Linked DNA regions of Homo sapiens: region 1 is linked to region 2. Evidence: fine-mapped expression QTL. A gene starts in region 2. The other region holds a variant in brackets. All regions are shown on one strand. Distances are from middle to middle.

Region 1 (2,902 bases), 140 kb before region 2:
CATGAGGCTGCTGTGGACCAGAGTGACCCAGCATAATCCCTATCCAGAATTTTAAGACAAATACAATGCTACCAAATCCAGTTTTATTTTGTATTTCTGTGTGTGTGTGTATGTGTGTGTGCGCGTGTGTGTGTGTGTGTTTTGGTTAAAAAAAATCTGCAAGAGAGGAAGAAAAATACACATCCATCCGTGGCGTATATTCAGCTGTGATCATGAAAATACTGAGTTATTGTCTGAAATCGTGTAAAGCAAGAACCTGCATTAAGAAAGCATAGCTAAGCAAACAGGCCCGGGACCCATATCTGCTGACATACCGTGCTATCCTGAGACTGCCGCAGAACATTTGCAAAGCCGTGTTCTCTAAGAATTCTGCACAGTGCAAACAGGCATGAGGGGAAAAAATACTACTAGGGAACTTCTAGTTCTTGCTGAAAAGGAAAATTTTGAGCTCTAAATCTAGCACTACCAAGCAAGAGAGGCATCTGTGGCTGCATATAAAGCTGGTACTCCTTTGCTTGAACAAAATCCCTCAGTATACAGTACTTAAAATAAACAAAGCTCAAAACAGTCAGCTACACACGCATGTTTTTTGGCCACATGCTGCCTGAAGAAAATAGCTATGCAGTGTGCATGCCCTAGTTTAAACCAAGCCTGAATACCGCACAGTCTCATTCCTCTCCCGGTCTCCTTTTCTAGACAGAAATACATTTCCCTTTAATGTACAAGTGAGAAAAAAATATGTTTAAAAGACAGTCCAGGCCCTTGATAAAAGCACTTACTTTGAAAGAACAGGACAGACTACGTATTCAAAACAAGAGCGCCTTCTTAAAGTGCAGGCTCAGAAGTTGTTCAATGGCCAGGACCTTCATTTGTGCTGGCAGCTCTGGTCCTGCTGGGCATGGTTAAGGGCGAGGCTCGCAGCCCGCACGGCGTGGTCCTTCAGGGGTGCTGCGTCAGGCTGACGCTCCGGAACAGTTACTGGGACAGGCTGTGAGCGACTCACCAGGACAGTTTTATTTCTGTGCTGAGCTTGCTGCTTCCTGCTGGGAAAATGTTAGTGGCGGAGTCACACCCAGGTACCGGGCCGCAGCCAAGGCTCCGCAGATGACCCGAGTTCTGATGGAGGTGGGGACGGGCGGCGCCCGGCACCTAGGGGGCAGAGGGCGAGCAATCCCGGAAGAAGACTCACGCTAGGCGATTGGTCTCCTCACGGGAGCTCCTCGACCCTGCCAAGGGCATGACTCAGCTCACCCAGGGCAGTGCTGGACCACACTATTTATCCCCTAAGGTCCAGGAAAGCCGAGTTCAGGCAATGACTGGCGAAGAGCTAGAGGGGAGGCAGGG[A/C]GGCCCCTAAGTCACTGGGGTCTAGAGGTTGTGGCCTCACATGCACACAGATTCAGCCCCTTTCTCTTTGGTAGCTGTTGCAATAGAGTGGCCTAGGACTCCGACCCTGAAAACTATGAGGAGGGGGAGGGGAAACAGGAGGAGAACGGGGAGATGGGGGAAGAGGGACAGGAGAAGGAGGAGGAAAAGGAGGAGGAGGAGGAGGAGGAGGAGGAGGAAAAGGAGGAGGAGGAGGAGGAGGAGGGAGAGTAAAGCAGCCGGCCTTACAATGGAGGTTCCAAATCAATAAGTGTAGAGAATTAATGATGTCCTGATTTTCTGTTGGTGTCAGGATGACAAACTGCAGAGTTAGAAGAGAGGCTTCTCATGACTTTGTCAATTTATATCTGCACAACATTATAACCAAAAGCAAGCCGGAGATTAGTGGAAGTTTAGGGAAGCTGGCTGTGGTTCTACACCTCTGTCTCCTGATACGTTCTAGACCCAGGATGTGTCTAGATGAAGGATGTGGTGGGGCGGGGTATGGTGTAGGGAACCTCAGGATCGTTTTCAGTTTGGAAGATTTAAGCAAGAACATAAAAGTTCTGGAGCCACAGATTTTCTTTATTGTGTAGAGTATGGGGTGAAGGAGACTGATGTAACAATGCCCATTCTGTGTCAGGAGAGGGGTGTTGCTGTCAGGAGCCCTGGGGCTCCACCTCAGCCCTGCGATCTCTGGGTGATCTCTGATGACACACAACCTCTCTGGGCTCCTCTCTCTTTCTTCTTCTTTCTCTCCTCTCCTCACCTCTCCTCCTCTCCTTTGTCTTTCTCTTCCCTCCCTCTCTCCATTGTTTTCCCTCCCTCCCTCCCTTCCTTCCTTCCTCTCTCCCTCCCTCCCTTCTTGCTTGCTTTCTTCTTTCTCTCTTTCTTTCCTTCCTTCCTTCTTCCTTCCTTCTTTCCTTTCTCTTTTTCTTTCCTTCCCTCCTTTTTTCTCTCTCTTTTTTCCTCTTTCCCTTCCTCCCTCCTTCCTTCCTTCCTCTCTCCCTCCCTTTCTTGCTTGCTTTCTTCTTTCTTTCCTTCCTTCCTTCTTCCTTCCTTCTTACCTTTCTCTCTCTTTCTTTTCTTTCCTTCCCTCCTTCTTTTCTTTTTTTCTCTCTCTTTTTTCCTCTCTTTCCCTTCCTCCCTCCCTCCTTCCTTCCTTTCTTCCTTCCTTCTTCCCTCCCTCCCTCTCCCCTTCCTTCCTCCCTCCCTCCCTCCCTCTCCCCTTCCTTCCTCTCTCTCTCTCTTTCTTTCCTTCCATAGCATCTTGCTCTGTTGCCTAGGCTGGAGTGCAATGGCACGATTATAGCCCACTGCAGCCTCTAACTCCTGGGCTCAAGCAATTCTGCCTCAACCACCAGAGTAACTGTGACTGCAGGTGCACTGCCATGCCTGGCTAAAATTTTATTTTTATTAGAGATGGGGTCTCACCATGTTGCCCAGGCTTATATAGACTGGTCTCAAGCTATCCTCCCGCTATCCCCCTCCCAAAGTGCTGGATTACAGGCATGAGCCACTGTGCCTGGTCTGGGCTTCA
Region 2 (2,902 bases):
CACAGGAAGCCGGGCATCTCTGCAGCCTGTGTCCCTGCCAGCTCCCCCTACGCGCTGAAATTCGGCAGGGAAGAAGTTATGGTGCCCAGCCTCTGTGTGCAAGACAGAGACACCGCGCATCATGGCTCTGAAAATCAGCCAAGTGGCCGGGACGTCAAAGCGGCAGAGCAATCAGAATGCCCTGGAGCCGGGGATGGAGGGGCCACATTGTTTGAGCCCTCGGATTTTGCTGCATTGTCACCGCCCGGGAACGTGGGGGTAGCAGGAAGCGCACCTCCAGCCAAAAATGGACCGGACGCATTCCCCCCCCCTCCCCGCCCCGGCAGCTCCCTCCCTGCCTGTCTGCAAGTCGCAATACGGTAGGCGACATGACTGCTCCCGCTAAAACTCAGGTGGCAGGCCCGGCTGAGCGGCGCAGCCGGCCGGTAACAGGGAGGCGCTGGGGGAGCACCCACACAGCGCCTCCTCCCCTCCTGCACCCGTCCATGGGAGCAAGGGCCGGACCTGGCCACGCGCCCCTCGAGCGAGCACCGGCGAGCCCGTGCGGAGGCTCTGGGCGCTCTCTGGGCTAACCACGGGCATTGCATGGGACACAATTGTTCAAAAGCGAGCCCAAGGCGAAGCGCAAATCCAGAGCTTTGGTTCACAAGGGGTGGGTGTGGGCTGGGAAGGGGGATTACGTAGGTCTCTCCGCCCCCTCCCCTGACACCTCCTCGCCACTGGGAGGGCGCTGAGGGGCGGGGGAGGCGCTGCGAACCCGCTTGGGGGCTTCTTTGTTTCTCTCCGTACCCCGCAGGAGGGCCGGGTGCGCCTGCAGTACCCAAGCCGGGGTCGCCACCCGGGGATGCCGGCCCGGACCGGGCGGCGGCGCGACCCAGGCTGACAATTGAACCTCGCGGGAGAAGCGAGAGGGTGGGGAGGAGGGTGGATCTCGGCCCCGAGAAGGGAGGGCGCTGCCGGGGCCTCGCGTGCGGCGGGGAAGCCGCCCAGAGAAGGGCGGGGGGGAAGGGGCGGCAGACAGTGTCCCCGCGCTACGCCCGCTTACCTTGGCAGCCCTGGCCTGGGCACAGATCATGCTCCTGTCAGCGCGCAGATTAGAGCTGGGGGGCGCACGTGCCCCGCATAGTGCACCGGGCGCCTGGGACTGGCTGGGGAGGGGACCCTGGCGACCGCCCGCTCTCGCTGCGCTCTGGCTGCCGGGTGCCCCGAGAGAGCGGAGGCCACGGCCACTGTCACGGCGGAGGGGCGCGCGCGGCTCGGCGAGTGTGTGCGCGAGGAGGGGGCCGGTTCGGTCAGAGTCGCACGGTGTTCCGGCTCCAACAACAGCGCCTGATGCGCGGTAACGCAGCACACTTCATCGCTTTATCCTCCCGCTTGCATCCCCTCCCTCCCTGCCTGCTCCTCTGTGGGTACCAGACTCCAGAACCAACCACAAGCCGGGCTTGCTCTCATTAGCGCTGCCCCGCCCTGCAGCCTCCGCGCACCCCCACCCCCGCCCCCGCGGTAAATATATATCGATTCTTGTTACCGCCGGCCCCATCCTTCCAACACCCAGCACGCGTACTGGGCATATCCAACACCAACCCTGGCTCCTCGGCCCTTTTGTGTGTGTGCAAACAGTGTAGCAGAAAGGATGCGGTACAGACACTCTAGGCGGGTACCCTGTGACAGGTGTTCTTGGCCTCTGTCTTAGACACTTTCCTCGCTTACCTTACACACAGTTAAGAACGCTCAGAGACACATTTCAGGAACCGTCCTGTATTTGCACAAGCACACAAAACATCGTAATGACAAATGCAAAGGATGAAAATCACCCCAGAATATCTATTGTTGGGCAAACCTAGCTCCCAAACCGCGTTTTCTATTACACTGCACACAGTGTCAGAATGCTAGAACGAGAAGGAGGCAAAGTCTAGACCCTTCCAGGTACAGCCAACTGAGATGCAAAGAGAAGTGAAATGCTGGTTACTATTGGTGGTTGGCTGCTCCATGTATGCACATTTTTGTGCATCTGGTCGACATTTGGTTTGTGTGTGTTCACATAAAATGCAGAGGCTTTGAGCACATAATCTCTATAGCCTGGGATTTTATGATCCAACCACATTCTCTACAATGCTGATTTATTCCTTCCCATTATTTTGCCCAGCATCCTCTACATGAGCTTTTTTTCACTTTCTGAGAAGTTATCTTCTTTCCCAGACCCCAAACTCCGCCTCCTCTAGAATAAACAAAGGCTTCACCCTGACTTCAGAACTCCTTACTGAAGACCTGAGTACGGACTTGTCAAAACCAAATCTCCTTCCCCTTCCACCCACAGTGGCTAGTTTCTCAGTGCCTCTCATTCCACTGACCTGCCTCTTGGCATTGATTTCACTCTTACAACTGGAACTTTCCAGAACTGGAAACTTTGGACGATGTGAAGGCAGCTTCACCAGCTGTGCTCTTTTCTGCAAGGAGGCACAGCCCTTCTCTTTCCGTATTCCACTTGGGGTGCCCAGTCCTTTCCTGACAGACCCTTTTCTTTGCCTGACAGCAGTCAGATCTTCTGGTCAGATGAGCTCAAAGCAGACCATTTTCAAACCTTAGCTAAGAATCCACACAGAAAGCTGTGCACACATTTCTCCGGATTTTACACTTGGATTAGTACCAACTCCTATATGAAGAAAACTCTCCGAGAATAGACTTGAACAGGCTGTGGCAGTAAACAGCAACAGCAACCAACCATGTGATGTTTCCAACCAGAGACTTGAAAGAAAACAAAAACTTTCACATAAACCAGCATCCATGGTTTCTAAATTAGCACAATGTCACCAAACCACAATAAAGGATAATTTTTTTACCTCAACTAATTGCCAGGATGTTCACCTCATTATTTTCAGTGAATCAGCATCAACTTGGCTCA

Alleles and levels. Alleles are on the strand shown, and positions count from the first base shown. SD is a standard deviation of normalised expression in the study named.
For the expression in skeletal muscle of the gene that starts at base 1,336 in region 2, C is the high allele of the variant in region 1 and A is the other (moderate effect, 0.62 SD a copy in GTEx).

The links. PIP is the estimated chance that this variant, and not a neighbour inherited with it, causes the effect.
Region 1: its variant is fine-mapped to the expression of HECW1 in skeletal muscle (GTEx, PIP above 0.99). The same link has a PIP of 0.9 or more in lung and thyroid.

The regions. Positions count from the first base shown.
Region 1 is chr7:43,247,357-43,250,258 of GRCh38, reverse strand. All of the region lies in intron 3 of HECW1 (HECT, C2 and WW domain containing E3 ubiquitin protein ligase 1), which reads right to left. LOC124901619 (a long non-coding RNA gene) reads left to right here and starts at 961. Exons shown (of 2, transcript XR_007060295.1): 1 at 961-1,076. The variant A/C (reference allele first, on the strand shown) is at 1,345.
Region 2 is chr7:43,111,081-43,113,982 of GRCh38, reverse strand. HECW1 (HECT, C2 and WW domain containing E3 ubiquitin protein ligase 1) reads right to left here and starts at 1,336. Exons shown (of 30, transcript NM_015052.5): 1 at 1,046-1,336.